2 linked regions of the Homo sapiens genome follow. The gene in region 1 interacts genetically with each later gene. Each region holds a gene or a part of one and is shown in the gene's direction. Other genes may lie near its edges.

Region 1 (17,082 bases):
AACTGTACAAATATATCAGATTAGTTTTAATAGCCATCTCCCCTTCCCCTACAAGTAAAGGAGAGTACTACAGCAGTATGTACTCTGAATTGCTGCTATTGAAGAACCCCTGAGCCTGTGCAGCGTGGCACTCCTGTGGTCCCCATTACTCAGGAGGCTGAGGCAGGAGGATTGCTTGATGCCAGCTAGAGGCTGCAGTGCACTATGAGAACACCTGTGAATAGCCACTGCATTCCAGCCTGAGTAACATGGCCAGACCCCATCTCTTAAGAAAAGAAAAGAAACCCTGAACCAGAGGAGCAGAGCTGCCACCACTTAGTGGTGGGGATGGGGCAGAACAGCTCAGGGCAAGACACAGGCCTTGGATGCCAATGCCAGCCGTCAGATATTGAGCAATGTGTAAGTGGGGTTAGCCTGCAGGAGAACCTGCTCGCCACCTCCTCCTCTTCATTCTTTAGGTGATCCCCATTGACCTAGACAATATCTTTAATATAGAGTTCTCCTGATTTTTCTACACAATTTTACAGGGCATACAGAATATATTTCCTGTCCAATAATGACAGAAATACTTGATTTTGAAGAGTAACAGTTATAGCTTGGAATAGAAGACTGGAGGCAGTTTGAGGGCCGACTTCAGAGTCCTGGTTGAAATGAAGGTTGAGAAGTATAATGCAGTCAGTGCAGGTGACTTTCAGCTGGGTATCTAGTCCTATCAGAGGTAAAAACTGTGGTTGCCCTAACCAAAACAATAGGACTAAGAGACCTTAAATGAAAGATGAAAGTTATTATAGAGAGAAATGATCATACTGGCAAACAATTCACCTCCAAGAATTATGATGTGACTCTTTGTCAGATACTCACAGATGGAATTCTAAACTGGTAGCAGACCCTGAAGGACAATGTCACCATCAGAACCACCAACAAGGACAAACTGTCCCTCTCCTGCATCACCCTGCATACCATCTGCATCCACAAAAATGCTCATTCTTCAACAAGCCTCCTATTTCTTTTGGGTGACTGGGAACACTGCCCAGCACCTCCATCACATGCTTTAGCGCTTCCCACCCTAACTTAGGGTCCCATATGCCTCCTGTTTCTTCTTGACCAGTGACCTGCCACTGTGGGCACTGTCATTCTACATGTCAGTGAGTGCAGAGTGCTATGGTTACCATGCAGACTATCTTTGAGCTGACTCTGCAGGCCAGTGACCAGGGTTCAACTTGCTCAGTGTCATCCTGAACCTGCATGTGATGGTGGATGACCATTGCAAAAATGCAAGGACACTATGCCAGGAGTTGCAGCCAAGTGGGGCCCTCTTTGATGCTGCACCACTCACAATGCAACCCAGCTATCCCATCACCAAAGTGGACACCAGCTGGGGCATAAAGGCTGACTGTCCTATCATGTGCTTCAGGCCAGCTAATGTGGCTCTTCAAACTAGGGATGTGCACGAGCTAGATGCGTGCCGTGTCACTGTGGGTAACAGAGATGCAACCTGCCAAGGTTTGTTGGTCACCGTGGTCAATGGTGAATCATCACGCTGAAACATCACCTGGTTGCTGCTCATAGTTTGCAGGAGTTGCTACCAGACCTCAGCAATCGCCCAGCACCCAACAGCAGGCAGCAGACAGCACCCAACAGCTGGCGATGGCCGTTGCCTTGATCTCCATGCTGTTTCTCCTCAGTGTGACTCTGGCCATCTCTCTGAACCTGCAATGCCCCCTATAGCTCCATTGCCTGGGGCTGTTTTCAGCTGGATCTCTGGTCCAAGCCCGGATATGGAGTTGTCTCCAACTTAAAGAAAGGAAATTTGCCCTGTTCCTACAACGTATGTGTGGTTTTAGATATTTTTAAAATCTTAATTTCTTTAACTCAAGAAACAGCTTTGAACCAGGTATTCTCTGCAGTGCCAGCAATGAAGCTTTGTTTTATTTTTGTTTTTGTAGAAACGGGGTTCACTATATTGACCAAGCTGGTCTCAAACTCCTGGCCTCAAGTAATCTGCCCACCTTGGCCTCCCAAAGTGCTGGGATTGCAGGCGTGAGCCACTGTGTGTGGGCAGCAATGAAGCTTTAAATGTTGCATTTGATTCAAATGTATTTGTGTGATATTTTAACATTTTTATTTTATACTTACCATCCTTTTATAAATCACTCCTGCGTGTTTTTGGTTGCTGAAAGTAGGGAGCTCTACAGGTTTACTTACTAGTTCTTATGTATATTTTAATTTACCTCATTAGCTCACAATTTCTTTGGGGAAAAGTTTATGCCTATTAATGTGTATTCTGAAAAGTTACATTCTCTGTTAAAGAGTTACTTCCTTGCAATATTGAAGATGATTTATTGCACCTTTAAATTTCTACTCTTTGGCTCCATGTACTTGTCTTTGAGAAGCTGAGAAACTGTAGATTTGGTTAAGAACTAAAGTTCTCTTTCCAAAAACTATTATTGAGACCTTTCATTGTTTTCTTTCTTTCCTCATTTTTAACTTTTCTCAGTCATGGTGTCCATGGGTTGGCTGGCCGAATTTGTTCCTGAAATTATCAGACTCTGGAGTACAGATAGCATGCTTCTCTAACTTTGGGGTAAAGATAAGTAAGTCACTCTAAGCCTGAGACATTTTAATTAGTAACCCTTTGCTAATAGTGCAGTGATTAAAAAAAAAAGAAGGCCACATCCTCAACTGGTTAAAAAATACTGTTAAGAGAAAACCAACTTCTCTTGGAGAAAATATTAAGTGCGATTATAGAGGAATACATATTATAAGAGCCTATCTAAAAATAAAGATGAGACCATTTTTCTTTTCAGCTGTGAAGAATAATATCATAGACTTTGTCTCTGAAATTTGAAATCTAAATTATATATTCATGTGACTTTTCAATGAAATTCCAAGAGCCCAGTTTTATTTTTTTCAAAATATATTGCCTTTGGTGAATCTTAAGAATTTTTTAAAAACCCACATAATGCAAAGACACTTCAAAAAAAAAAAAGAGGAAAAATAAGGATAGGGTTAAACCATGCTCTTCAAAATCCCAAGGTTTCTGATAAATATTCAAATCATAATGGGAAGGAAATGGGATGGTATGATTTTTTTAAAGTCTAGCTTATATTCTAAAAGATTATTTTTCCCTCTAATACTTTTCACCCTCCAGTCAAAGGGGAGCTGCTCTATGTGGCCTGGGAAATTACCAAGTGGTCAAACTTTACTACAGAAAAAGTGGAGAGATGATTTTGTCCTCATTGTAATGTTAGGTTTTTACTATAATTCCCTGAATAGCAAACTTGGAAAGCAGATAACATGGGAATACTTGGATTCTCCTGTATATTTCAATTTGGTGACATTTAGGCACATTTAAAGAAGTGAACATATAGTTTCTCTTTTTCATACATATATTGTAGAATTATTTCCTTGACAATAGACTAAAACTTAAGAAAATAACAAGTTAATGAGAAGGTTTTCAGTATTTGCTAGGAATGCAGTAACTGGTTAGGACTGTGGGCGCCGCTGTTCACTAATCTGGTAGATACAGGCAGTACACACAGGTCAGGAGGAGGAAAAAAAAAAAAAAGAAAAAGAAAAAAGCTCTCGTGCCTCTTAGAACCTCCATAACCGCCAGATTGAAAACTGACTGTCCAAGACTGCCTAAATCCTACTTCTGGATGACTCTCCAGTCAGAATTCTCCTGAAAATTGGGTTAATTTCAGCTCAGAAAAGCAGAAACGATACCCTTGGTACTGGACTGGAAGAAAACTACGAAGTGAGAGAGCCATGAAGATTCAGAAAAAGCTGACTGGCTGCAGCAGGCTGATGCTTCTGTGTCTTTCTCTGGAGCTGCTGTTGGAAGCTGGGGCTGGGAATATTCACTACTCAGTGCCGGAAGAGACAGACAAAGGTTCCTTCGTAGGCAACATCGCCAAGGACCTAGGGCTGCAACCCCAGGAGCTGGCAGATGGCGGAGTCCGCATCGTCTCCAGAGGTAGGATGCCGCTTTTCGCTCTGAATCCTAGAAGTGGCAGCTTGATCACCGCGCGCAGGATAGACCGGGAGGAGCTCTGCGCTCAGAGCATGCCGTGTCTCGTGAGTTTTAATATCCTTGTTGAGGATAAAATGAAGCTTTTTCCTGTTGAAGTAGAAATAATTGATATTAATGACAACACTCCCCAATTCCAGTTAGAGGAACTGGAGTTTAAAATGAATGAAATAACGACTCCAGGTACCAGAGTCTCATTGCCTTTTGGGCAAGACCTTGATGTGGGTATGAACTCACTCCAGAGCTACCAACTCAGCTCTAACCCTCATTTCTCCCTGGATGTGCAACAGGGAGCCGATGGGCCTCAACATCCAGAGATGGTGCTGCAGAGTCCCTTAGACAGAGAAGAAGAAGCTGTCCACCACCTCATCCTCACAGCTTCTGATGGGGGTGAACCAGTCCGTTCAGGGACCCTCAGAATTTACATTCAGGTGGTGGATGCAAATGACAATCCTCCAGCATTTACTCAGGCACAATACCATATAAATGTCCCCGAAAACGTGCCGCTGGGTACTCAGCTGCTCATGGTAAATGCCACTGACCCTGATGAGGGAGCCAATGGGGAAGTAACGTACTCCTTTCACAATGTAGACCACAGAGTGGCCCAAATATTTCGTTTAGATTCTTACACAGGAGAAATATCAAATAAAGAACCACTAGATTTCGAAGAATACAAAATGTATTCAATGGAAGTTCAAGCCCAGGATGGTGCGGGGCTCATGGCTAAAGTTAAGGTACTGATCAAAGTTTTGGATGTAAATGATAATGCCCCAGAAGTGACCATCACCTCTGTCACCACTGCAGTTCCAGAAAACTTTCCTCCTGGGACCATAATTGCTCTTATCAGTGTGCATGACCAGGACTCAGGAGACAATGGCTACACCACATGTTTCATTCCTGGAAATTTACCCTTTAAATTGGAAAAGTTAGTTGATAATTATTACCGTTTAGTGACTGAAAGAACACTGGACAGAGAACTTATCTCTGGGTACAACATCACAATAACAGCAATAGACCAAGGAACTCCAGCTCTATCTACTGAAACTCACATTTCACTACTAGTGACAGATATCAATGACAACTCCCCAGTCTTCCATCAGGACTCCTACTCTGCCTACATTCCCGAAAACAACCCCAGAGGAGCCTCCATCTTCTCTGTGAGGGCCCACGACTTGGACAGCAATGAGAATGCACAAATCACTTACTCCCTAATAGAGGACACTATCCAGGGGGCACCCCTATCTGCCTACCTCTCCATCAACTCCGACACTGGGGTCCTGTATGCGCTGCGATCCTTCGACTATGAGCAGTTCCGGGACATGCAACTGAAAGTGATGGCGCGGGACAGTGGGGATCCGCCCCTCAGCAGCAACGTGTCTCTCAGCCTATTCCTGCTGGACCAGAACGACAACGCGCCCGAGATCCTGTACCCCGCCCTCCCCACAGATGGTTCTACCGGCGTGGAGCTGGCGCCCCTCTCCGCAGAGCCCGGCTACCTGGTGACCAAGGTGGTGGCGGTGGACAGAGACTCGGGCCAGAACGCCTGGCTGTCCTACCGCCTGCTCAAGGCCAGCGAGCCGGGACTCTTCTCGGTGGGTCTGCACACGGGCGAGGTGCGCACGGCGCGAGCCCTGCTGGACAGAGACGCGCTCAAGCAGAGTCTCGTGGTGGCCGTCCAGGACCACGGCCAGCCCCCGCTCTCCGCCACTGTCACGCTCACCGTGGCCGTGGCCGACAGGATCTCCGACATCCTGGCCGACCTGGGCAGCCTCGAGCCCTCCGCCAAACCCAACGATTCGGACCTCACTCTGTACCTGGTGGTGGCGGCGGCCGCGGTCTCCTGCGTCTTCCTGGCCTTCGTCATCGTGCTGCTGGCGCACAGGCTGCGGCGCTGGCACAAGTCACGTCTGCTACAGGCTTCGGGAGGCGGCTTAGCGAGCATGCCCGGTTCGCACTTTGTGGGCGTGGACGGGGTTCGGGCTTTCCTGCAGACCTATTCCCACGAGGTCTCCCTCACTGCGGACTCGCGGAAGAGCCACCTGATTTTCCCCCAGCCCAACTATGCGGACACACTCATCAGCCAGGAGAGCTGTGAGAAAAAGGGTTTTCTATCAGCACCCCAGTCTTTACTTGAAGACAAAAAGGAACCATTTTCTCAGGTAAACTTTTGTGATGAATGTATCAGCTATCTAGAGAAAAATAATTCTTGATTTAACTTACTAGCGTTCGCTCTTTGCTACAGATAGTTCTTCTAACCCATGTATCTTTGTAGCTTTTTATTACAAGTCCTGCAAAATCACGATTGAGTCTACACGTTCATATGCAGGTATATTTATAATTGTTCTTGCACTGAAAAGGAGACTGTGATCATAATGTAGGTGGTTGGGTTGAAGGTATGTGTGAGATGCCATCTCTGTTTGGAAAGAGCACTGCATTAGAAACGGCGATCTAGCTTCTAACATTTTCTTACTTGCCTCTGGGCTAAAAGGTTTGATTAGAAAAGGCTCACCAATATTTAAATGACTAACACTATTTTCAAATTTTCTTTTTATAAGTACCTGCTAATCTACCCCTGAATTTAATGTAGATGTCATCTGTCAGGACACTGTGATAGTTTATTTGGGGACATTTGAAGAGGTGAAGATTGTCTAAAGTAGTATTTTTAGTTGTGTTCATATAAGATTATAGAGATCTATATAAACTGCAATTTTAAATTATTGTTGAATATTTTAGCCTTTTATTCTATCTTTATTATCAGATTTTTTTGGTTTTGAGATGGGGTCATGCTAGAGTGCAGTGGCATGATCATGGCTCACTGCAGCCACTACCTCCTGGGCTCAAGCGATCCTCCCACCTCAGCCTCTCAAAGTGCTGATATTACAGGTGTGAGCTGTGGTGCCTGTACTGAAGAATACGTCTATTTAAGTAATGTATGAAGTAACAAAATGAACAACACAAAATTTATCATGCAACTTGAGAAATATCTTTGAAGCCTCCTGACTTATACATTATACCTGTAATGAAATCAGCTAACAAAAATCAAGTATATATCCTATTTTAATGTGTGTTAACTTTTCAGAAGAAAAAAAAAGTATGGTCGGGGAGTAAGTCCATGCTTTGATGTATTTACTCTGCTCCAATAAAATACAGAGATACATAAAATATAAGAGGAAAGCAAAAGCAAAGTGGTGAGCTAGTCTAAAGCCATGTGAGTTATAGTCTTGGACTTAAAAGCAGAAATTGAAGGTTAGGAAACTGCCTCCAGCAATGTAATAGGGACAGAAGTGCTTCAGACTAGATAAATATCTGGACCAGGCTTACTGCCTGAATCCAAAATAAGCAATGAGGCCCTTCAGCTGGTTAAAAAGGAAAAGAAAGATGCATTAACATGCTGCCTAGCTGGGCGCAGTGGCTCACGTCTGTATTTCCAACAATTTGAGAGGCTGAGGCGGAAAGATCCTTGGAGCCCTGGAGTTCAAGACCAGCCGGACAGGGCGGCCTGCGACTGTAGTCCCAGCTACGCGGGGCGGGGAGGGGCGGGGCGGGGCGGGGCAGGAGCTGACGTGGGAGGATCCCTTGAGCCCAGGAAGTCAAGGCTTCAGCGAACCGTGATCGCGCCACTGCCCTCCAGCCTGGGCGACAGAGCCACACCCTGTTAAATAAATAAATATAATAATAAAAGCTGTTTCCCAATTCCGGTGGTTATAACTTTCTTCGTAAGCTGTGTAGACCAAGAGAGAGAGACAGACACGGATGCTGGATAGAGACAGCGAACACCAAGTATCTCATATGTGAGCTGTGGTATCCAGAATATCACTGCTGTGCATCATTAAAGCGTCATTAAGAGACCTAGTTATGGCCTGGGACCTGAGGTCAGATAGAAACTATTTCAAAACCATTACAAATGAGCACTGAACCCAGGAGGGAAGGAGAGAGGGATATAGTGTAGAAGAGAAAAAAACAAACTAAAACTAAAAACAAACAGAGCTCTTCCACTAAAAATAAATATACAAACCAAAATTTCAAAACACACTTGTCTCGTAGAATTTATTGTTACTAGTGAGAAACTTTCTGTCAACACACTGTTATTTTTTAAGGTAATCTCTGTTTTCTCTCTGGTAACTATTGAAGACTTTCTCTCATTCTTGCTGTGTGTCTGTTGCATTTTTATTTTTATTTTTTGCTTGGTACCAAGAGTATACTCTCAATTGATAACTAAGTTATCTCACTTCTGGACTTTCTCAGCTCTTATAATCATAATTTTTTTTCTGTGTATATACAAGTGAGCTACATTTACCTATTAAAGGACAAATATTACAAAACTGGTTGATTTTTAAAATCCATATTCTAATAATACACGTGCTTAAAATAAAAATACACTGAAACAGTGAAACTAAATATATATGTACACACACAAAAAAGAAAGTCATGTTAATGTAACAACAAAGTCATATTTAAGGTAACAAACACAAATTGTGATTTTAAAAAATGAACTGATTATAGTTGTAAAAAGAGCAGATGATCAAAAGGATATAAAAATATAAGCTTCTATTACTGAAAAATATAGCTTAGAAAATACCGGAATATTTAAACATAATTCCATAAGAAATAATAGACCCCACAGGAAGAAAGTTAGTTAACATAAAGAAGATTTGAACAACATAATTTAGAAGCTTGATCTATTAGGATTCTAATAGATCCGTTCTGCACACAACAAATATGGAATAGTCATCCTTGAACAAGCAGACAATCTACAAGTTTATTACCTAGTCATTACAAAAAAGGGTTCAGCAAATTGCAAAGTACCAATAATATACTTGCCTTACAACACATACTTAATCACAAAGCAAACATTTAAAAATAGAAAAGGGAAAAAGTTTGGATATTTACATCTACACCCTTAAATAACTCTTGGATTTCAAAAATCACAATGACAATGAAAACTACTCAGAAAAAAAGGACTTAAATATTCTTTATTAAAAATTGTGAGATGCAACTAAAACTAATTAGGAGTAAGTTTATAGACAAATGCAATAATTTTTTTAAAAGCAAACAAAATTATTTAAAATACATGAATTTAGCTTGCCATTCAAGAAGTAAGATAAAAAACATACAATGAGTATATACTAAAATAAAATGATGGAAAAAATAACAAAGAGTTACATTTTTGAAATGCAACCATGGAAGAGTTCTGAGGATGAAATAATGGAAGCAGACAATAAATGTAATAAAACCAGTGGGGAGAAAATGAAAATTCTGTCAAGTCTAACGTTAGGACTCATGTAAGAGAGCCAGGCACAATGGCACACCTATAATCCCAGGTACTGAGTAGGCTGAGGCAGTAGGATTGCTTGAGCCCAGGAGTTTGAATCCAGCCGGGGCAGTATAACAAGACCCAATCTCTATAAAACAAAAAAACACAAACACAAACACAAAAATAAAAATAAAAAACAAAAGCAAAATATACCATAGTAGCTCTACAAGAAAACATGGTGAGTTGGTATCAATTATTTCCAATATATTTTTCTTCAGTCTTGTAAGAGGAATGGATGAAAGTAAAAATGAGAAAATTTCAATAAGGAAGGAGCCAAAAGGCAAACAGATTAAAGTGTCACCAGAAATGGGCAATTCCACTTATGCCACATACAAAAATTAATTCAAAATGGATCAAAGAAGCAATATTCAGAAGCAATAAAACCCTTTTAGTTATTATGTTTAAGAACTAAAACTATACAACTCTTAGAAGAAAACAGGAGGAAACCTTCATAACATTGATTTTTGGCAATGATTTCTTGGATATGACACCAAAAGCACAAGCAACAAAAGAAAAAAATTGTATACTGGACTTTATCACAGTTAAAAACTATATGCAGCAAAGAACAATATCAATAGAGTGAAAAGGCAGCCCACAGAAAGAGAGAAAATGTTTCCAAATCATGTATCTGAGAATGGATATCCAGAATAAAGAACTCGAACTCAACAACAAAGAATCCCAAACAATTGGATGTTAAAATGAGCAAAGGACTTGAATAGACATTTCTCCAAAGATGATATACAAATGGCCAAAACCATATGAAACAATGTTCAACATCACTAGTCATTAGGGAAATGCAAATCAAAACCATAATGAGATACTACTCCACATTCATTAGAATTGCTGTCATAAAAGAAAAGAAAAGAAATGTTAACAAGAATATGGAGAAATTGGAATTCTTGTGCATTGCTGGTGAATATAAAATGACACAACTGCTGTGGAAAATGGTATGGTGACTCCTCAAAAATTTAAACATAGAATTACCATATAATCCAGCAATTCCACTCTGGTTATTACCCAAAAGAAGTGAAAATAGGGACTTCAACAGATATTTGTACACCTATGTTTATGGCATCATTAGTCACAATAGTTGAAAAGTGGAAGTAACCCAAGTGTCCATTGACAGATGAATGGGTAAATAAAAAGTGGTTCACACATACAATGGGCTGTTATTTAGCCTTAAAAAGGAAGGGAATTCTGTTACATGCTACAATATGGACGAACTTCAAAGACATGATATCAAGTGAAATAAACCTGTTATAAAATGACAAATACTGTATGATTCCTCATATATGAAGTTCCTAGATTAGTCAAATTCATAGAGAAAAAAGGTAGAATGGTAGTTGCCAGGGACTGGGTGAAAGGCAATGGGGAGTTGCTATTTAATAAGTACAGAGTTTCAGTTGGGGAGGATGAAAAAGTTCTGGAAGTGGATGGTGGTAATGGTCACACCAGAATGTAATTTGAATGTACTTAATGTCACAGAATTGTATGCTTGACTATGGTCAAAATGGTAAAGATGAAACAAGAGTAAGAAGACATCCACTGCATTGTATTTTACACCCTTGGAAAATGAATATCAGAAAAAGAACTTGACAACCTCAAACAATTTTGAGTGACTGATTCCTAGTGTGGTGAAAAACCCCTTCCGGCTCTAGCTTTATCAAATAGACCTGCTTTCTGTTTCTGTAATGTTCCATGCTGTCTCTTACCTTCAAGCATTTGTTCAGAGGTTCTAGAACACTTCTTCAGCCTTTTTCTTGATTCAATCCTACTTTTTATGATTCAGCTTCAATCATGCCCTCAAAAAGACTTTTCTGACCCCAAATCTAGACTGGATACCCCTCCTAGGTATTCCTCCATCACCCAGTGTTTCCTACCTCATATCACAGCAGTTACCATACTCTATTATACTCTCTTTACTTTCTTATGTCCTCCTCCAACCTTCACGCTTGAGACCAGGGCCTGTGTTTATCATGTTCACCATTTCTAGCTCCAGCTGCAATCATGCAAAGTGGGAGGCACATGTACCCAATTAAGTGTCTGATGATTCAATAATTTAAAGGCAGATTTTGAAGGTAAATGCAAAGCCATCAACCATAAACGTTCAAAATATATAACCTTAGAAGAAAACGTAGCTAACGTTTCTTAATTGATCTTACTGCTTCTGATTATACAATAAGAGATGGAAGATGTTTGGAGCAAGGGCAGTGGTGGCATTGATTAATGCCTTGAGCAGTCAATAATACTTTCCTAGCAACTATTATCAAGATCATGTTCATTTATACCATTCTTATTAATCCTGATAAAAAGATTCCTGTTTTGAAAGATCTAATTCTAGGGTATCTTAGAGCTGTAAGATTCTTTAAAGCGCCTTGAAAGTCAACAAAGGCAAACAAACAAGAAGTAACTTAGGTTTTCCTGAGCAGGTGCAGAAATTATTTAGGCCTCTGAGCGTCGCTGTTGACCACCTAAGGAGTAAAAGGCAGCGAGACATCCAATCCAGCAATACGGCTCCCACAGCACAAGGGGGTGGAGGTTTGGCCCTAAAGCTTCAGGACACCAAAGAAATTCAGTCGAACAGCCCACCAGTTCTCTCCATAGGGACCTGGGTCCCGTGAATGCTGGTTATCTCACACCCTGAGGAATAAAGATTGGAATCCGCACTGGATGCTGGAAGTTGACTCGGAGAAAATTGCGACAGGAGGGAAATGGCGGCTCTGCAAAAGTTGCCACACTGCAGAAAGCTGGTCCTGCTGTGCTTCCTTTTGGCGACCCTGTGGGAGGCCAGGGCCGGGCAGATTCGCTATTCTGTGCGGGAAGAGATCGACAGAGGCTCCTTCGTAGGCAACATCGCCAAGGACTTGGGTTTGGAGCCCCTGGCACTGGCAGAGCAGGGAGTCCGCATCGTCTCCAGAGGTAGGTCCCAGCTCTTTGCTCTGAACCCGCGAAGCGGCAGCTTGGTCACTGCGAACAGGATAGACCGGGAGGAGCTCTGCGCTCAGAGCGCACCCTGTCTGTTGAATTTTAACATTCTGCTGGAGGATAAATTGACTATTTATTCAGTAGAGGTGGAAATAACAGATATTAACGATAATGCCCCTCGCTTTGGAGTAGAGGAACTGGAGCTAAAAATCAGTGAAACCACTACGCCAGGATTCCGGATTCCTCTTAAGAATGCGCATGATGCAGACGTAGGTGAGAACGCCCTTCAGAAGTACGCACTCAACCCAAATGACCACTTCTCCCTGGACGTGCGAAGGGGAGCTGATGGGAACAAGTACCCAGAACTGGTGCTGGAGCGCTCTCTGGACCGCGAGGAAGAGGCTGTTCACCACCTCGTTCTCGTGGCTTCTGATGGGGGTGACCCAGTGCTATCTGGCACCTCCCGCATCTGCGTGAAGGTCCTGGATGCGAACGACAATGCGCCTGTTTTTACACAGCCCGAGTACCGCATAAGCATTCCGGAGAATACGCTCGTGGGCACCCGGATACTCACGGTGACCGCCACTGACGCAGATGAGGGCTACTACGCTCAAGTGGTATATTTTCTAGAGAAAAGCCCTGGAGAAACCTCAGAGGTATTTGAGCTTAAGTCAACATCTGGAGAACTGACAATCATAAAAGATCTAGATTATGAGGATGCTACATTCCATGAAATTGATATTGAAGCTCAGGATGGTCCGGGCCTTCTAACCAGAGCGAAGGTTATCGTCACGGTTCTGGATGTGAATGACAATGCCCCAGAATTTTACATGACATCTGCTACTAGCTCAGTTTCTGAAGACTCTCTTCCAGGAACCATAATTGGGCTTTTTAATGTACATGATAGAGACTCTGGGCAGAACGCATTCACCACCTGTTCACTCCCCGAGGATCTTCCTTTTAAGTTAGAAAAGTCAGTAGACAATTACTACCGACTGGTTACAACCAGAGCCCTTGACAGGGAACAGTTTTCCTTTTACAACATCACTCTAACCGCTAAAGATGGAGGGAACCCCTCCCTGTCCACGGATGCTCACATTTTGCTCCAGGTGGCAGACATCAACGACAACGCACCCGCCTTCTCCCGCACATCCTACTCCACCTACATTCCCGAAAACAACCCCAGAGGAGCCTCTGTCTTCTCAGTGACGGCCCATGACCCCGACAGCAACGACAATGCTCATGTAACTTACTCTTTCGCGGAGGACACTGTTCAGGGGGCACCCTTATCCTCTTACATCTCTATCAACTCCGACACTGGAGTACTCTATGCACTGCGCTCCTTTGATTATGAGCAGTTGCGAGACTTGCAAGTGTGGGTGATAGCGCGGGACAGCGGGAACCCTCCACTCAGTAGCAATGTATCATTAAGCCTGTTCGTGCTGGACCAGAACGACAACGCGCCCGAGATCCTGTACCCTGCCTTCCCCACAGACGGTTCCACTGGCGTGGAGCTGGCGCCCCGCTCCGCAGAGCCCGGCTACCTGGTGACCAAGGTGGTGGCGGTGGACAGAGACTCGGGCCAGAACGCCTGGCTGTCTTACCACCTGCTCAAGGCCAGCGAGCCGGGACTCTTCTCGGTGGGTCTGCACACGGGCGAGGTGCGCACGGCGCGAGCCCTGCTGGACAGAGACGCGCTCAAGCAGAGCCTCGTGGTGGCCATCCAGGACCACGGCCAGCCCCCTCTCTCCGCCACTGTCACGCTCACCGTGGCCGTGGCCGACAGGATCCCCGACATCCTGGCCGACCTGGGCAGCCTCGAGCCCTCCGCCATACCCAACGATTCGGACCTCACTCTGTACCTGGTGGTGGCGGTGGCCGCGGTCTCCTGCGTCTTCCTGGCCTTCGTCATCGTGTTGCTGGCGCACAGGCTGCGGCGCTGGCACAAGTCACGCCTGCTGCAGGCTTCAGGAGGCAGCTTGACAGGCATGCAGAGCTCGCACTTTGTGGGCGTGGACGGGGTTCGGGCTTTCCTGCAGACCTATTCCCACGAGGTCTCCCTCACTGCGGACTCGCGGAAGAGCCACCTGATTTTCCCCCAGCCCAACTATGCGGACACGCTCATCAGCCAGGAGAGCTGTGAGAAAAAGGATTTTTTATCAGCGCCTCAATCTCTACTCGAAGAAGAAAGAGAAGAAACGTTTTCTCAGGTAATCTATCTTTTCACAACATACGTACTAGCTAGTTTGCTGAAGTAATTCACTTACTTGTTTACTATATCTATTTTGTTCCCCATATTTCCTTGAGGGTAGAGTCAAGTTTTAGGAAGTGAGTCTTGGTGAATTATTTCTTGGTAGGTCTTAGTGTTCACAGGCTGTAAGAGGAAGAAGAGACGTGAGAATCTTTGTGCAATGAATGTAAACCAGGAGTTAATAGATAAGATTATCCAAAGAGCACTGCATTAGGAACTAGGGTGTCTGGTTTCTTATACTTTCTTCTCCATCCCTGGGCAAATCATCTCATCCACCCAGATCAACAATTTTTTCTTTGTTAAAAATATAAAGATTGGAGTTTATGTTTACTCAAGTCCTTTCTTCTTTTAAGTTATGACTCTTACTCTATATTTGAATCTGTATATGAACAGTGAAACATGTTAGTTGGCTAGTTCTTTCTCATTCAGTCTTAATACATTTCTTTCAGTTTGGCAGCAAAATTGTTTTCCTTAACTTGCATGCCCTTCCCTGTTAAAAATATGGAAATTTAGAAATATACATTCCTTACAGTGTTTCAGGAAGGTATGTCATATTATTTTGGCTTAGTTTTAAAAATCACATTAACCTCTAAGCTATATGCTTCTTGAAGAAGTGACTGACTTATCATCTGCTCTATAATAAAGCTGTAGAGTGGTAATAAACAGGTTTCTCCTTTTTTTTTATCTTTCTCATACGTGGGAACCATACTGTATTTTAATCTTTAAAATAATATATATCCTCAATATAGTTTTGCTTAAAGAAAAGATACAAAAGATTCATATCATACAATTGCCCAGAACCAACTTCTTTATACATCTCTCTTCTCAAGGTTTCTACTCACAATAGCTGCTAGAAATGTTCCCAATCCCTCACCCAATCCCAGTGCCCCTCTGATCAATTTTCTTTTCCCATTCCTCTTCCTATATTGGCTTTTAGTATGTTGGTTATGTATTTAATAACAGAGAATAATAAGCACACTAATGTTCTATGTAACTGGCATCATTTTTTATTTTTATTTGAAAATTATCATGTACCAATTGAGCCTTTTATTGAATGATACCATATTTCTCAAAGTGCTGTGATTCTTTCCGTTGCATTTGATCAAGAAAAAATTTTCTGAGACAAGGTGTTGTTTTGGTTACTATTACATAATTGTCTATGAGTAAAATTGGAACTCACTGTGGAATAATATGTCATAATAGCTTTACTTGTAAGTGAATAATAAAGTATAAACAGGAAAATTAAAGCAAAGTTATTTTTAGTGTGTGTAGTAACTCCACAAGAATAAATGTCTTATGCATAGATATGTAATGCATCATGATTGAAACGACAAATATATTGTATTTATATTTCTGTGCTTGGAAACTTATGGGGAAAGAGATTCTGGAACATAAAAGCTTATTTCTACTAGTTTCAGTTGGTTTTGAAAAAACATCCTTACAGTCTAGATTTAAACAAAGGAAACTTCTTTCAGTACCCTGAAGGTCTGTGATTTCTCTCTCACACCTAGGCATTGTCATGCTGTTCTCTCCCACATCCAGGCCTTTTCACTGATCCACTCCTCTCATGTTTCCTGGGAAAGCGTTTGCTAACATTAAAGGCCCAATTGAAGGCCCCCCTAACCCCCTTGGCTTCTCCCATTATGGTAATTATCTCAGTACACTGCAATTCCCTGTTTGCTTTTATATCCTTATAATCTCTGTGAAGGAAGCTACTGTGTCTATATTGTTCACCTTAAATCCCCAAACATATTGTCTGATGCCTAATTATGTGTTTGTTTAATGAATATTAAATAACAACAAATATCGAAACTAAGTTATCAGGTCACCAAGAACAAACTTAAAGAAATATAATGTATAAATATGGCTGATTTCTGTGTGTTTCTTTTCTTTTTTTCCTTGTCTCAGCTCTTAGAGAGTTAAGAGTATAGAGAGGGAAAGGTCAAAGAGGAGGTGGATATCTTATCAAATAACCCTGATAAATGTAGTAAGTATAAGAATAAACACATTATCAAGGTTCAGTGGTGGAAGAACAAGTGGTGGTCATGTCTTTTAATAGTTGTGTTGGTCCTTACGGCCAGTTCTTTGTTACTGTGTGTTTCTTAAACTGAACAATTCAAAAAAGTTAACTCCACTATGTTTGAAGCAATATTGGTGGCATTAAGGTTAGTGCATGGATTCCCAAGAAAGATAACTTGAGGTGACACTGTTTAACATATATCGATTCAATTATGTTCAATCAACACTAGTCCTCTTATCTCTGACAAGAAGGATTTCAGATCTTGGATAATTCAAAAATAATAATGTGTCTGAGAGGATGCAGTAAACGGTTAGGCCTCTTAGTGTCGCTGTTGACCACTCAAGAAGGAGAACGCAGCTGGAGAACTAGTCCACCATTTCCTTGCTCCTAAAATGCAAAGAACCAGCAAATCAGACTCAGAAGATCCGGGGCGGCTGCCAACCTCACCTCTTAGTCAACCAGCTGTTTGACCTGTGAATTAGGCCCGTAAAAGACTTCGTTTCTTGAGAAAATAAGATTGGAGTCCGTCGTAGGAAACTGGA
Region 2 (16,382 bases), on another chromosome or scaffold:
CTCCTCCTGGGTTCAAGCAATTCTCCTGCCTCAGCCTCCCGAGTAGCTGGGATTACAGGCACCTGCCACCACGCCCAGCTAATGTTTGTATTTTTAATAGCGGTGGGGTTTCACCATGTTGGACAAGATGGTCTCCGTCTTTTGACCTCTTGATCTGCCCACCTCGGCCTCCCAAAGTGCTGGGATTACAGGCATGAGCCACAGCATCCAGCCAAGAAATTCTTTAAAAAAAAATTTTTTTAAAGGAAATTTATTCTTGGGAAATGCTTGGGAAAAGAACATTTGATCTTATCTATTTTGTTTCACAATATGATAAGCAGAATTGCAATGTTATGTGCTATCTACAGATTATTTAGTAAGACATTGATCTGTCTGTGAGGAACATCGATCTCATCCAGAAAAATGTCTTAGCCAAGATGTGTGGGTAATGTCCTAACCCTGTATAGCTCTATGCTGATTGCTGCCCCCTGCTGTCCTTGTCCTCTTGCCGAAATGAGATGGGGCAAAGGACATAGGTCAATTAAATGCCCTCTTAACGCAGCCTTTCTTTTACATTCTTGTGGCTGTCCTGTTGTCCCTTAGGTGTAGAGAAGGCACGCGCTTTCCAGGAACTATGTAGTAAACAGTACCCAAATGGCCTGCAAGGGGTATCGGGCCCCTTGATAGGGTCTTGGAGAACGTCTCTGTGATCAACTTGTACCAGTTATTTGTATTTGTTTTTAAGGTCAAATACATTCTTCTCTTAAGTGATTTGCAGGACAGTGAGTATAGTTCTGAAGTTGAGTTCTAAATCTTGGAACGCATTCATTTTCCTTTCCTCTTTTGCGATTGTATTACTCACTTCTTGTTTTTTGGCTGCAAATGTGCTGGGATTACAGGCGTGAGCCACAGTGCCAGCCACATTTTTTCTTTTTATTGGGAAGGCATCTCAATATGTTGCCCAGGTTAGTCTTGAACTCATGGCCTCAAGTGATCCTCCTACCTCGCCTCCCAAACTTCTGCGACTGCAGACGTGGTGGCTCATGCCAGGCGAATGGTTCAGAGAAAAAAAGCATATCATCAAAATAGATCTGCAGAAGCAAATCAAGTATATATCCTGCTAATTGACTGTGTTTAAGAATGCAGGCCCATGTTCTATTGAACCTGCTTGCTGCTTTAAAGCAGGGCTTCTCGAATATAACCTGTATTTGGATTGCCTGGGGATCTTGTTTAAAATGCAGATTCTGATGAGTAGGTCTCAGTGGGACCTGAGATTCTACATCTTTGTCAACTCCCAGCTGATGCTAACACTGTTAGAGAAAGACTACACTTTGCACAGTTAAGGGTCTAAAGGTCAGAAAGTGTGAACTTATTTTATTATTTTATTTTATTTTATTTTTTGAGATGGAGTTTCAATCTTGTTGCCCAGGCTGGAGTGCAATGGCATGATCTTGGCTCACCGCAACCTCCGCCTCCCGGGTTCAAGCAATTCTCCTGCCTCAGCCTCCTGAGTAGCTGGGATTACAGGCATGCGCCACCCCACCCAGCTAATTTTGTATTTTTAGTAGACAGGGTTTCTCCATGTTGGTCAGGCTGGTCTTGAATTCCCGACCTCAGGTGATCCACCCACTTCAGCCTCCCAAAGTGCTGGGATTACAGGCATGAGCCACTGTACCTGGCCGTTTTTTTTTTTGTTTTTTTTTTTTAATTTTTAAAAAATAGAGGTAGGGTCTCACTATGTGGCCCAGGCTGGTCTTGACCTCCTGGGCTCAAGTGATCTGCCAGCCTTGGCCTCCCAAAGTTCTGGGATTACATGTGTGAGCCACTGCACCCAGCTTACTGTGCTTTTGTTGTTGTTTTTTCAGTTTTTTTTTGAGACGGAGTTTCACTCTTGTCACCCAGGCTGGAGTGCAGTGGTGCGACCTGAGCTTGCTGCAGCCTTTACCTCCTGGGTTCAAGCAATTCTCCTGCCTCAGTGTCCTGAGTAGCTGGGATTACAGGCGCCTGCGCCATTCTCAGCTAATTTTTGTATTTTTAATAGAGACAGGGTTTCACCATGTTGGCCAGGCTGGTCTCGAACTCCTGACCTCAGGTGATCTGCCTGCCTCGGCTTCCCAAAGTTCTGAGATTACAGGTATGAGCCACCGCACCCGGCCTCCTGTGTGTTTTTAGATGGGAGTTTTCGATCCTAGAAGCTCAGAGAAGGTGAGATGATGGCACCGGAATGGAGCTCTCCCACCCTCAAGGGGAGGACTGGTTAAAAGTCAGGGTTCAACGAGCAACGCCCAGGCTGAGTGCTGGGCACATGACAGAAGCTGTGTTCTCCACAGAGCGGCTTCCGTGCCAGTCGGGGAACGCTGGAGTACCAAACTGCCTTTTTAGTCACTATGAAATTTTGTTTTTAGTTTCACACATTTTCCAAAATAACTAGTTCTCTTTCCTGTTTTGCAGAGGAGTTGTTTCCATGGTCATTTTGAAAATGACAGAAACCCAAGCTGGAGAATACCTACTTTTTATTCAGAGTGAAGCTACCAATTACACAATATTGTTTACAGTGAGTATAAGAAGTAAGTCCAGCCTGCTACTAGTATTCCAGCCTGGAATACCACAATATTTCAAAGGAGTGGTTTAGAACCCGTTAGCTTGACCAGCTCCTCTAGACATATTCAGGTTTCCCTTGATACGTAGTTGGATTGATTAGATTCCTGTCAACCCTCTGTAGAACCTATAGAGAACTGAGAATCACTGATGAATCACTGATGTGTGCCGTGGGCTCTCAGAATGTGACTGCTGCTAAAAACGCCTGGGACGTCCTCTGTTCAGTAGCAGATGGCTGACAGGGAAGAAATGGAAAACATTTTGACCTTGGAATCAGAAGACCTCTGTTCTAATTCTGGTTCTGATACTACCACCTATGGCAGGTCACAATTTCTCTGAGCCCCGATTTCCTTATTGGTAAAATGAGGATAAAAATACGTACCTCACAGGATTGGAAGGTCTCAGCGTGATCCAATAGAACTTTCTGAGATGATGAAAATGATCTTGTCTGTTCTTTCCAATACAGTAGCCACTGGCCACATGGGGCTGTTGAACACTTGAAAGGTGGCTAAGGTGACTGAGGAACTAAAGTTTTAATTTTATTTAATTTTAATTTGTTAAAATTGGAATGTAAATAGCCCCATGCAGCTAGGGGCTACTGTGTTGGACAGCGCGGGCCCACATGCGTGCTAGACCATATGCAAACTGTAAGGAACGGTCCAGATGTTCTGACCAAGGGAGGCAGCTGTGCAGTTGGCAGAGGCACCACCTGCGTGTGCTTTCTGGCTTCTCCTTGTTTCGTCCCCATCATGCACAGACTCCGTGCTATGCACACTGAACTTGCTGCTTCGCCTTCCATGACCAAGAAGGACTAAAGGTGTCTGCATTCACTTAGGTCCTCGTGCCTTTAGGGGCCAGTGCAGTGCTCCAAAAACCCTGGGTTAATATCACTTGAAATTAGGTCCCCCCGACACATTGACACAACTTGCCAGGCTCCCCTCTTCCTTGTCAGTGACTAAATGTCCGGCCCACAGAGGTGCCCTGGGTCAGGAGTAACCACAACTGCCCTTTGCTGAAGATCTTCTGCCTGTTTCATCTCAGATGCTCACAGCGATCCTGCATGCATGTAGATGAGAAAACAGCCCCTCTGAGAGGTGTGGTGGTGGGCACAGCTGGAGGCTTTCTGCACCACACTGCCCTGGGTCTTGTGTGAGAATGTGTGGGTCTTGCTGTCAAAGCTACTAACAGAAGAGAGCACGCAAGAGTCCCAGAAGCATCATCTTACTGGGGTTGGGGGTGGAGTAAGGTTCTAAAGTCAGCCTGTAAGGTATACATGAGCTAAAGTCAAAATTACCCAAAATTTATTCTGGAAAGTCCTTTAATTACTCTGAAAATGATAGGACCAGAGCCCTACAAGCTCCAAAGCCGAGAATCACCTTATGTTGCTCTTTAATGTCGGTCATGTTCCCTGCCCCCTTTCTAGTCCCTCACCGCCTCTGTGGGACAGTAAATACGTGCCCCAGGTTGGATGAAGCTAGGACGTTTCTTGTTCTCTACTTCTCTTCCTCTTTCTCCTTTTTTCTCTCCTTTTAAAATTTTCTTGCCAAGTATAAACAGTTGTATAAGGTAAGTGGGCATCTGCTGTGTCTCTGTTATACTTAGGGTATATTCCTTTCACTTAAGATTTACAATGTAAAAATGTAACAACAGTTATTCAGGTAAATTATAACTTATTTTTAGCATTCTGCAAGGTGGTGGGATCCAAAAAATAGGTGGGAGAGATGTGGCAACAGTCAGTGTGAAAAAGAGGAAAGGGTTTAGTCAACCACAAGCTCAGTATTAACCACCAGCGTGGCATGGTTGCCAAAAAAGTAAATTTGAACCTTGGCAGTGTTCATGAAAATATAACGTCTAAATTAAGGAAATTAATAGAAGCTTATTCATTTCAGTTCTACTTTTTTAAAGATGAATACTGACAAAATGAGCAACCAGGATAGTGGAAAACTTGGAATTCTTTAAATTAGGAGCAGTTGAAGGAATTGGGAATGTGTAGTATATAGAAGGAAATGTTTTGAGGAGACGATAAGATTGATTGCAGTGTAATGCAGAGGAAATTCTTTTGGGATTTGAGTCAGGAAACCTGAGCTAACTAGTTAAAGTACCTTGTATGGTAATTATCTCCCTTGATCTCGGTTTCTGATTTTAAATATTTGAAAGATTTTCATATGGAATCAAAGCTAGACTTTAAAAAAGTTGCTCTAGAGGATATGATAAGAACCAATTGTTAGAAATTACAGGGAGAAAAAGTAAAAATCACCTCAAGATGGGAAAAAATACTTGCAGTTCACAATCAACAAAGGATTAATAGTCATAATATGTAAAGTCAATAAGATAAACAATCTATATAAGTCAATAAGTCAATAAGAAAAACGAACAAAATGAAAACCTAGTAGAGCAATGAACAAAGGACATGAGTAGGCATTTCATTTTTGGAACATGAAACCTAAATGGTCAAGAAACATGTTAAAAGATAAACTTAGGCACTTTAAAGTTGTAAAGAGTATATTTGAGCAGAAAGCAATTCATGAATCAGGCAGTACCAGATGGCAAGCAGGTGGGCTCCAGTGAGGAGATTCAAGGGTAAGACTTCTTTCTATAATGTGTTCCCGGAAGCAAGACAAAGAAAAAATTTGATTGTTTAAAGAAGGACAGTCCCTGGATTGGTCAGTTTGCAGTTCCTCATTGATTAAGCTAAGTTGCATTTTGCTGCTCATATTGAATTGGGTTTGTTTTTTGCTTTTTGTTGTTGTTGTTTTTGTAGAGACGGGGTTTTGGCATGTTACCTAGGCTGGTCTCGAACTCCTGGGCTCAAGCGATCCTCCCGCCTCACCCTCCCTAAGTGCTGGGATTACAGGCGTGAGCCACCTTGCCCGGCCTTTATTCTTTTCCTTTTTTTTTTTTTGAGTTGTGTTGTGATTTGTTTACCTAGGAACTCAAGCTGTTAGAGTTGTCTCAGCCTAATGGACTCCCAATTAATTATTTTAACACATGTTAAATTAATAATGGAGAAATTAAATTAAGACCACAATGAAATACCATTTTATACTTGCTGGATTGCTGAAAATTAAGAAGTCTTGGTAAGTCTATAAAGCAATAGGTGCTCTCATATCCTGCTGTGTAACATAAATTAGTATAACCACTTTGGAAAACAAATGATCATTATGTGTAAGGCTGAATGTGCTCATACCATGTAGACCAGCAGTTCCACTCTTAAGAATGTTATTAAGGAAACTGTTATACACATGCCTCAGTACAAATGTGTAGAATGTTCAGAGCACATGGTTGATCATACAAAAAACTGTGGCCGGGTGTGGTGGCTCATACCTGTAATCCAAGCACTTTGGGAGGCCAAGGCAGGAAGATCACTTGAGCCTGGGAGGTTGAGGCTGTAGTGAGCTGAGATTGCACCACTGCACTCCAGCCTGGGTGACAGAGACCCTGTCTCACACACACACACGGAAGGAAACAACCCAAATGTCTACTGCAAGAAAATGAAAAAATAATGATATATTTACCAATAGAATATTATGTAGCAGTAAAAAAAAAAATGAATAAAGTATAGCTACATGTAAAACCATGGATGAATTTTAAAAACATAAGGTTGGATGAAAAAATGAAGTTGTAGAAGTTACATATTGATTGATAACACTATTTTGAAGCTCAAGAATGAAAAAATCAATATATTGTTTAGTGCCACATATTTATTTGGTATAACTACTTTGAAGAGTCCTCGAATAATCAACAAAATTCAGGATAAAGGATACGTGCAGTTGAGAGGTGGGGAGAAGCATAAAAGTAGATCAAAAGGTATTTATTAATATTCTAGTTATTAGGTGGATAGTGGCTCCGTGGGTATTTGTTGTTGTTATGCTTTGAAATTTACACTCCATATATTCTTTCATATATATATATATATATCAAACAGTACATAGTATTTTCAAACAAAATTTATTGTAAGGAGAGAGGCTGGAATTCAGTATAGGGAAACTTTCTTTAAAAAAAAAAAAGTTTGTCAGAAATTAGAATGACCTGCCCTGGGAGGTCATGAACTCCAGTCTCTAGAAGAGTCAAAGTAGAAGTAGAAAGTTTATGTTAGAAATAGCTGGGAGTGAAGGATGGTGTGTGTGTGTGTGTGTGTGTGATCCAGGGTGAGTGGGAGGCTCAACTAAACCTCTTAAGTTCTGTTGCAATTCCAACTCCACCCTACCATGTTTCTTCTGTCTTTCTAAATCTTAGTATATTTCTGCCTAGTTGCAGATCAAATTATAGGAAGAAAGTTGAGGTCTAAACTATGTGTTAAACAAGGGTTTAAGCCATATGTTATTGCTAATTTCCTTTTTCCTGTGCCTATCAATATTTGTATTTTCACATGGCTTCACTCGACTACTTTAGTTAGCTGTGGATTTGTGAAATACCCAAAGAAATTGGCCAAGAGGAGAAATGTTCAAGTTGACACTGCAGCCACAGCTAAATTTAATATAATGGTTGGTTTGCTTTTGATGCCTTTATTATGAAAAAAGAAAAAAATATGTATACGTAATGGTTGAGAACTTTTCATAATGACATAGAATCCTTTTCTGAGGGGCTGCTAAGAGAATTATTTTTAAAATAGTAAAATGTTAATAACTTATGATGCTTTAGATACCCTGCTTTACACATTAAGAAGACCTTACTTTAGAAAAATGGAAAACCAGGACGCCCTGGTCTGCATATCTGAGAGCGTTCCAGAGCCGATCGTGGAATGGGTGCTTTGCGATTCACAGGGGGAAAGGTATGACACATCCATGGTAGCTGCTATTCTCATAATTTCCTTTTGGCCTTTTTCTAATGTAGTTGACATCAAGCTGTATGTAAAATTTAATTTATGCTCATTTAAACAGGAAACTTTGGCTTCTTAAAGTTAAAAAATGGCCAGTATAGGGCCGGGTGAAGTGGCTCACGCCTGTAATCCCAGCATTTCGGGAGGCCAAGGTGGACAGATCACTTGAGGTCAGGAGTTTGAGACCAGCCTGGCCAACATGGTGAAACCCCATCTCTACTAAAAATACAAAAAATTAACTGGGTGTGGTGGCAGGCACCTAAAATACCAGCTACTCTGGAGGCTGAGGCAGGAGAATCTCTTGAACCTGGGAGGCAAAGGTTGTGGTGAGCCAAGATCACGCCATTGCACTCCAGCCTGGGCAACAAGAGCGAAACTCCGTCTCAAAAAATAAATAAATAAAATTAAAAAAATAAAATAAATAAGTAATACAGAATGGCCAATGTGGGCTTCACAGGGAGGACAAGGATTTTTTTGGTAAGGGGCTTTTTGGAACCCCTCAAATCAACTGCAGGGCCCTTCCTGGGCATCATGCTACACAAGTAAAAGTCCCTCTACGTTCCAGGATTGTTGGCTCCCTGGGCATCTGGTTGGGGCAAAAAGAAAGATACTGATTTTAAAGTAGAATTATCTTATAAGTAAGAAATTCTAGGCTGGGCACAGTGGCTCACGTCTGTAATCCCAGCACTTTGGGAGGCCAAGACCGGCGGATCACGAGGTCAGGAGATCGAGATCATCCTGGCTAACATGGTGAAACCCCATCTCTACTAAAAATACAAAAAAAATTAGCCGGGCGTGGTGGCGGGCACCTGTAGTCCCAGCTACTCAGGAGGCTGAGGCAGGAGAATGGCGTGAACCTGGGAGGCAGAGCTTGCAGTAAGCCGAGATCGCGCCACTGCACTCCAGCCTGGGTGACAGAGCGAGACTCCATCTCAAAAAAAAAAAAAAAGGGAAATTATAGGCTGGGCACAGTGGCTCACACCTGTAATCCCAGCAATTTGGGAGGCCGAGGCAGGCAGATCACCTGAGGTTGGGGGTTCGAGACCAGCCTGACCAACATGGTCAAACCCCGTCTCTACTAAAAATACAAAAATTAGCCAGGTGTGGTGGTGGGCATCTGTAATCCCAGCTACTCAGGAGGCTGAGGAAGGAGAATTGCTTGAACCCGGGAGGCGGAGATTGCAGTGACCCGAGATCGCGCCATTGCACTCCAGCCTGGGTGACAGAGTGAGACTCCATCTAAAAAAAAAGAAAAGAAAGGAAGAAAGAAATTCCTTGTGACAAAATGTTTAATTTCTGATTATCCTGTTTGTTCTGGGAAAGCAGTCTAATATGATTGTTTAAAGATATAGAATCCAGAGCCAGATAGCCTGGGTTTGAACCCTGGTTTGCTTAGCAGCTGTGTGGCCTTGGACAAGTTACTTACTCTCTGTGCCTCATCAGAAGAATGCGGATGACAACAGATACTTATAGGATTGCTATTCTGATTAAATGAATTGATATATGTAAAGCACATAGAACAGTGCCTAGCCAATACTAAGTAAGGTATAAATGTTTACATAGTTTTTCATATATGCCAAAGTTAAGTTCTTACAAAGTAAAAATTCATGCAGTTTGAACTAATTAAAATTTACTAAACAACTTTTTTTTTTTTAAAATAGGACCAAATAGAAGGAGAAAAAGTACCAAATACTTTGTTCCAAAGTGGTACAAAAGTTCGCTTTCTGCTGAGGCAGGGAGAGGGGTTTTGCTCTGTTGAATACTTGGGAGTCTTGGCTGACTTCCCTTGTGGGTGACACCTTGGCCCTCCTCTGTTCCTATGGGAACTCGGGTGACTTTTGAAACTTTAGCTTCCCCCTCCCTTACTGCGTCCCAAAAGGATGCTTACCTTGCTAAACTTCATGAAAGCCCAATCATGCTTTTTCTCTTCTCTCTTTCTTCTCTTTTTTTCCTTTATCTTCTTTCTCATTTTTTTCCCTTTCTTTCCCTGTCTTTAAACAACAGCAACAAAGAGATCACCAAACATGAACAATTTTAAACTGTTTTGTTATGTAATTCTCCTTAGTGTTATGCTAATTCATTGCGATAATGAGTAACTAGCTAGCTCCCCTCTGAGCTCTTAGCTGAAACCATAGATATGGGCTTGTTTACCTTTTGACCTTTTGTTTACCATTTGACCCTTAAAACTGGCTCTAGAACTTTGTTCTCCTCTTGAGCATTCATTTGTAATTTTAAAACTTGTTTAGCCAAATGGTACTTCTTTTCTAATTGCAGCTGTAAAGAAGAAAGTCCAGCTGTTGTTAAAAAGGAGGAAAAAGTGCTTCATGAATTATTTGGGACGGACATAAGGTGCTGTGCCAGAAATGAACTGGGCAGGGAATGCACCAGGCTGTTCACAATAGGTAACACTATAATATCATGCACTTTCATTTTCAGTGACCGGTTCTTAGCAACTATCAGGGACTAACAGTAACTGCGTAGGTGATCATTCAACTTCAGAAATCCTATCATTCCTTCAGGTCACAGTAAATGCAATATTATGGATTCTGTAAATGCTGATTTCTTCATAAAAGAGGAGTCAGTCTCTAAAAGCTTCTTTTATTAATGTGGTTAGTAATATTTGAGATGATGCTAAAGTCTTTGTTCAGAATGTTCAGGATATCTTTTGTGATGAGGCAAAAATCACTTTTTTTTTCTCACTTGGGATGTTTTCATCTCCTAGATCTAAATCAAACTCCTCAGACCACATTGCCACAATTATTTCTTAAAGTAGGGGAACCCTTATGGATAAGGTGCAAAGCTGTTCATGTGAACCATGGATTCGGGCTCACCTGGGAATTAGAAAACAAAGCACTCGAGGAGGTAATAGGACAAGTTTGTATTCTGAAAATGCAGGAACAATTAACTAATAGTCTGGATTGAAAACATTAAATGCAAACTCTGTTTTATTAAAACCTAGGGCAACTACTTTGAGATGAGTACCTATTCAACAAACAGAACTATGATACGGATTCTGTTTGCTTTTGTATCATCAGTGGCAAGAAACGACACCGGATACTACACTTGTTCCTCTTCAAAGCATCCCAGTCAATCAGCTTTGGTTACCATCGTAGGTAATGCAGGCTGCTCACACAATCTTTATTCCTATTTTTAGTCGCTGTAGTGTGGAATGTGAAGTATGTGGTACAAATTCTGATTTCAATATAATGCTACTATCAAACACTAAGAAAGAAACTGAGTTAGAATAGCTTTGCAAAGATAATCTGCCCACCCTCTTCCTTTTCCCGTTAAACCAGGCTCGCTTGAATGCCACTGTCTTTGCATATAACACATTGTAATATGACCATCTGTTTGTGTACTTTTATCCTCCAGTAGACTGTAAGTTTCTTAAGGACAAGAACAACTCATTCTATCCTTGTAGTTCCAGAACCTGACACAGAGCCTGACACAAAATGGACAATAAATACTAGTTCTAAGAACCAACTAACCGCACTGTTAGGGCAGTGAGCACTGAGAGACAGTACAAGCCCTTAGATGCACTGAAATTTTGGTGGGGTATGTAGGATCTGAAAATAACCACAGTTCAATAATCTCAGATTAGGGCACAGCGTTCAGCCATAATGAAAATGCCGAGAAATACAGCGATGCTCTTAGCAGATTAATAAGGAAGTGTTCCATAAGGCAACCTCGTGAATATTGCTAGCCAGATCGCTCTTTTATTTGTGCCTTGAGTTTATTTTACTCTCTCTCATCAATGGAAGAGTGGTGCTGGCTGAGAGCAGGGGCCAGACAGTCAATTATCTACATCCCATTCTTTTTCTTTCCTTCTTTCTTTTTTTAAACATTTCTTAACTTCGAAAGATGATGAGCTCAGGCTTAGAACTAGGGATAGGACTCCTGGGTTTTCACTTGGATTATCCAACCTGACCTGCAGCATGCCAACACTTGAGTTTTCCTGTGTTAAACTGATGAATACAAGTTTATTTTATCTTCTCAATACGTTTCCCTATGAATATTATTAACTAACTCATAAATGCCTATTTTTTCTTACAGAAAAGGGATTTATAAATGCTACCAATTCAAGTGAAGATTATGAAATTGACCAATATGAAGAGTTTTGTTTTTCTGTCAGGTTTAAAGCCTACCCACAAATCAGATGTACGTGGACCTTCTCTCGAAAATCATTTCCTTGTGAGCAAAAGGGTCTTGATAACGGATACAGGTGAGACCACAAAGGACTCTAAGATACCATTTTTAGCATAATTCTCCTTGCTTGTCGCCCTTGAGAAGGACAGTTTTATACTTATGGAAGCAAATTCACTTATGAGTTTAACTATTATTGAGTTGAAATTGGAGATAAGAAAACAATAAGCAGATGTGAGGATACAGTAGCAGTCTTACCATTACTTTAGATAATATAACCTGCTGCATGAAAACAGAAAGAACCGTATTAGTCTGGTCTAGTTTGAGTCTGGTTCTCTGGCATTTTCTGAGTCACAAGGTAGTTTTTACTTCCTGTTTGAGAGTGCGGTGTGTAGGACACTGAGTCTCCCCTAAAACATTTGCAGATGATTGAGGAAGTAAAACTCCTTAAAAACAGAAAAACATTACTCATAGGTGTATTGATTTAAATTTTCAAAAAATACATGCAGAAATAGCCCAATAGTAAGTGCTGAAGGAAAATGTTGTTTTCCTCGGGATTTGTATGAGAAACTATGCAAGATTCTTTTTTTTAAGAACAACAAATTTTCTTTTCTTTTTCTTTTTCTTTTTTTTTTTTTTTTTGAGATGAGGTCTCACTCTGTCACCTAGGCTATAGTGCAGTGGTGCAATATTGGCTCACTGCAACCTCCACCTCCCAGGCTCAAGTGATCCTCCCACCTCAGCCTCCCAAGTAGCTGGTACCACAGGTGCACACCACCACACCTGACTAATTTTTTGTATTTTTGGTAGAGACAGGGTTTTGCCATGTTGCGCAGGCTGGTCTCGGACTCTTGAGCTCAGGAGATTCACCCTACCTGGGCCTCCCAAAGTGCTGGGATTACAGGCGTGAGCCACTGCACCCAGCCGAAAGATTCTCTTGTGGGAGGAATTCTCCATTCCTTCTTTGGAAAACAAAAAACAACTTTCCCCTATATCTTCTATAGTTATGACATCTCTTGTCTCTTTAAACTAATGCTATGGAACATGGTTTTGGACTAGGCTATGAGACACTGAGACGCACATGTTATCTTTCAAACAAGTCAATGGACTAGAATAAATCATCCTTTCTCAGCATGTGGTCTGTTGAACAACTGTGTAAGAATCATCTGAGCAAATGTTTAAAATGTGGATTCCTGGCTCCCATTCCAGACATGCTGACTCAAAACTGGGGCAAAACGCTCAGACTCTGCTTTTTTAATGAGAACCTTTGGTGATTCCTATCACAGGTCTAGATCTGTGCTGTCCGGTACGGTAGCCACCAGCCACATGTGGCTATTGAGAGCTTGAAGTGTGTCTGGTCCAAATTGAGATGTACTCTAATTGTAAAATACACACTAGATTTTGAAGACTTAGTATGAAAAAAAGAATGTAAAATATATTATTAATAATTTTTATATTGGCCGGGCTCGGTGGGTCACACCTGTCATCCCAGCACTTTATGAAGCCAAGGCGGGTGGATCGCTTGATCCTAGGAGTTTGAGACCAGCCTGGATAACATGGCAAAATCCCATCTCTACAGAAAATACAAAAATGAGTTGAGTGTGGTGGTGTACACCTTTAGTCCCAGCTACTTGGGAGGCTGAGGTTGGAGGATTGATTGAGCCCAGGTGGTCGAGGCTGCAGTAGCCATGATCACGTCACCGCACTCCAGCCTGGATGCAGAGCAAGAACCTGCCTCAAAAAGAAAAAATAATAATAAAATTAAAACAATTTTTACATTGATTATATATTAAAATGATAGTATTTTGGATATATCGCATTCAGCGAAATATGTTATTAAACTTAATTTCACCTGCTTCCTTTTACTTTATACAGCCAACAGAATTTGTAAATGATGTACAAGGCTTGAAGTTGTGACTCACATTCTGTTTCATTGGCTAGCCCTGTTCTAGATGAAGAGTAGGAGTTCTTTTCACCTTGATTCCGCTAAGTGTTTGTTTCATGATTATTGTTACTCTTTATACCTAAAAGGGATTTGTACTAAAAGTCCCTTGTTGGGACTTTTAGAATCTCAGTGCAGGGTTTGCATGGAGTTGTCTACTGTCTCTTACTGAAACCCCCCAATGTTCAGAGCATTCATTTTTAAAGTAATTAAGAATGCAGACTGGTCTGGGAGCTGACTGAAACACACTCCCCCAAACTCAGGGTTTGTCAACAGTGGCGCTGCTGGCATGTTGAGCTGGATAATTCTTTGTTGTGAAGGACTGTCCTGTGCACTGTAGGATACTTTTCAGCATCCCGGGTCTCCTCCCACTGGATGCCAGGAGCACATTCCCTTTTCCCAGTGTGACCAAAAATATCTCCAGACACTGCCAAATTGAGAAAAATAACCCCTGGCATTTTTTTTTTTTTTTTTTTTGAGAACCATTGCCTTAGAGGCATCAACCCACAGTCATCGTAAGCTGTTATTCAGAAATATCAAGCTTTTTTTTTTTTTTTGAGACAGAGTCTTATTCTGTTGCCCAGACTGAAGTGCAGTGGCACGATCTTGGCTCACTGCAAGCTCCTGGGTTCAAGCAATTCTCCTGCCTCAGCCTCCTAAGTAGCTGGGATTATAGGTGCATGCCACCATGCCCAGCTAATTTTTTGTATTTTTAATAGAGACGGGGTTTCTTCATGTTGGCCAGGCTGTTCTCGAACTCCTGACCTCAAGTGATCCAACCGCCTCAGCCTCCCAAAGTGCTGGGATTACAGGCGTGAGCCACCGCGCCTGGCCCATCAAGCTTTTAAATGTAGAAGGTTGGAGAGTCAGCCCCTCTTTACCCTAGTTGACTTGATTACCACTTGGCCTGTGTTCAGAAGGAAATCAGCATATCACTGTCCCCTCTCTCCTTTGTATCCTATCCCCATGTTAGATAAGCTCTTAGCATTATGGGAATCTCTTCTGAACCTGATTCAAAGAGAGAAGGGGTCGATTCAATTTAGTTCAACAAATATTACTTTAATATCCTCTTGATGGGTGTGATGCTGTGATGGGCTGCAAGAGTGAATAAGGTAATGTTGCTTTCCCTCTCCCGCAAGAATGTACACAGATTGCTACTGTGCTGGTGATATCTGGTATAACCTTTTGAGATTTTACAGAATCGCCAGTTGGGGACCATGTCACTGACATATGGGTCATGGGCCAATGTAGTGGGCTGCTTCATGTAGTTTCATTCCATGGCTACAATCCATACCCATGACCCCAGATTGTTATCCTATAGAGGTAGCCAAATGAATGAATTAGGTGAGCTCCTGACTCCTATAGCGTTTTGTACCTCACTCATTCCTACTTATCTGGCAACAGATAAGTATGTATGTCACATCTCACCAGGGAGTTTATAAACTCTAAGAATAGGTATGCTGCCATATTTCTCTATCTTTGTACAATGCCTTGTTCAGTAAGTGTGTTTAATAAATGAATGAATTCATCATCATATCTGGAATGCAACTCACAGTGCAGTCTGGGCCAAAGATGAGTCGACAGCATCCTCTTCACTGCAAGGACCATGCACATGGTTCTTAGCACAACACCCAGTACTCAGTGTTTATTGTTATTTGAAAGTTCTTGAAGAGCTACAGTGTTTGTGCTAATGATGTGCATTGTTGGTACTGATAATGTACCAGGTGTTATGGGCCACTGACGACACACAGCAAAGGAAAGATGGGCCCTCCTTCTTCATGAGAAAACATGCTCAAAGTACTGAACAAGAAACGAACAACACAAAATTTGAACACGCCTCTGAGTGCTCTAAATGTCTTTTTCTCTCCACATGAGGCTCTATGTTGAGATGGGGATGGAGGACTAGATTATAGTCAGGGGTAATTTCCACTTTTCTTTGTTTTTGCCTTTTTTTTTTTTTTTGAGACAGAGTCTCACTCTGTCGCCCAGGCTGGAGTGCAGTGGCATGATCTTGGCTCACTGCAACCTCCGTCTCCTGGGTTCAAGTGATTCTCCTGCCTCAGCCTCCCTAGTAGCTGAGATTACAGGCATGTGCCACCCTGCCCAGCTATTTTTTTGTATTTTTAGTAGAGACGGGGTTTTGCCATGTTGGCCAGGCTGGTCTCGAACTCCTGACCTCAAATGATACGCCCACCTCGGCCTGCCAAAGTGCTGGGATTACAGGTATGAACCACCGCGCCTGGCCCTTCTTTTTGCTTTTTTTTTTGAGACGGAGTCTCGCTCTGTCACCCAGGCTAGAGTGCAGTGGCGCAATCTTGGCTTACTGCAACCTCCTCCTCCTGGCGGAGGTGATTAAGTGATTCTCCTCTCGGTGGAGGTGAGTAAGTGATTCTCCTGCCTCAGCCTCTCGAGTAGCTGGGATTACAGGCATGCACCACCACACTCGGCTAATTTTTGTATTTTTAGTAGAGACGGGGTTTCACCATGTTGGCCAGGCTGGTCTCAAACTCCTGACCTCGTGATCTGCCCGCCTTGCCCTCCCAAAGTGCTGGGATTACAGCCGTGAACCACCTTTCCTGGCTTCTTTTTGCTTTTTAGAGTCAGGGTCTTGCTATATTGCCCAGGTTGGATTCTAACTCCTGGGCTCAAGTGATCCTCCCGCCTCAGCCTCCTGAGTAGCTGCAACTTGGCGTGTGCCACTGCACCCGTCTTTCCTTTTGACTTTTTATTATAGAAAGTTTCAAATTTACTAATAAGTTGAAATAATAGTGCATGAGCATTCTTTACCTACCACCTAGATTCAACAATTTAATTGAACCGAATTTGGTTTGTGAAGTACAGTATTTTAGTCATGTATCAAGATTTTATAGGCAAAGTGATACAATTTTTTAAAAATCTGTT

The links.
Region 2: changes in PCDHGA2 (region 1) and FLT3 together harm fitness less than expected from each alone (positive genetic interaction), as found in Homo sapiens cells (one study listed by BioGRID).

The regions. Positions count from the first base shown.
Region 1 is NC_000005.10:141,326,917-141,343,998, forward strand, and holds the start of PCDHGA2 (protocadherin gamma-A2 isoform 1 precursor), read left to right. Parts: upstream 1-11,843; 5' UTR 11,844-12,055; coding exon 12,056-14,479; coding exon of another isoform or gene 14,480-14,527; exon of another isoform or gene 14,528-16,391; intron 16,392-16,912; exon of another isoform or gene 16,913-17,082. Other genes in the region: PCDHGA1 (protocadherin gamma-A1 isoform 1 precursor), read left to right, coding at 3,769-6,189. UniProt on the Homo sapiens protein: Potential calcium-dependent cell-adhesion protein. May be involved in the establishment and maintenance of specific neuronal connections in the brain.
Region 2 is NC_000013.11:28,043,511-28,059,892, reverse strand, and holds part of FLT3 (receptor-type tyrosine-protein kinase FLT3 precursor), read left to right. Parts: intron 1-2,430; coding exon 2,431-2,546; intron 2,547-6,969; exon of another isoform or gene 6,970-7,061; intron 7,062-7,218; coding exon 7,219-7,348; intron 7,349-9,670; coding exon 9,671-9,798; intron 9,799-10,118; coding exon 10,119-10,258; intron 10,259-10,355; coding exon 10,356-10,509; intron 10,510-11,449; coding exon 11,450-11,618; intron 11,619-16,382. UniProt on the Homo sapiens protein: Tyrosine-protein kinase that acts as a cell-surface receptor for the cytokine FLT3LG and regulates differentiation, proliferation and survival of hematopoietic progenitor cells and of dendritic cells.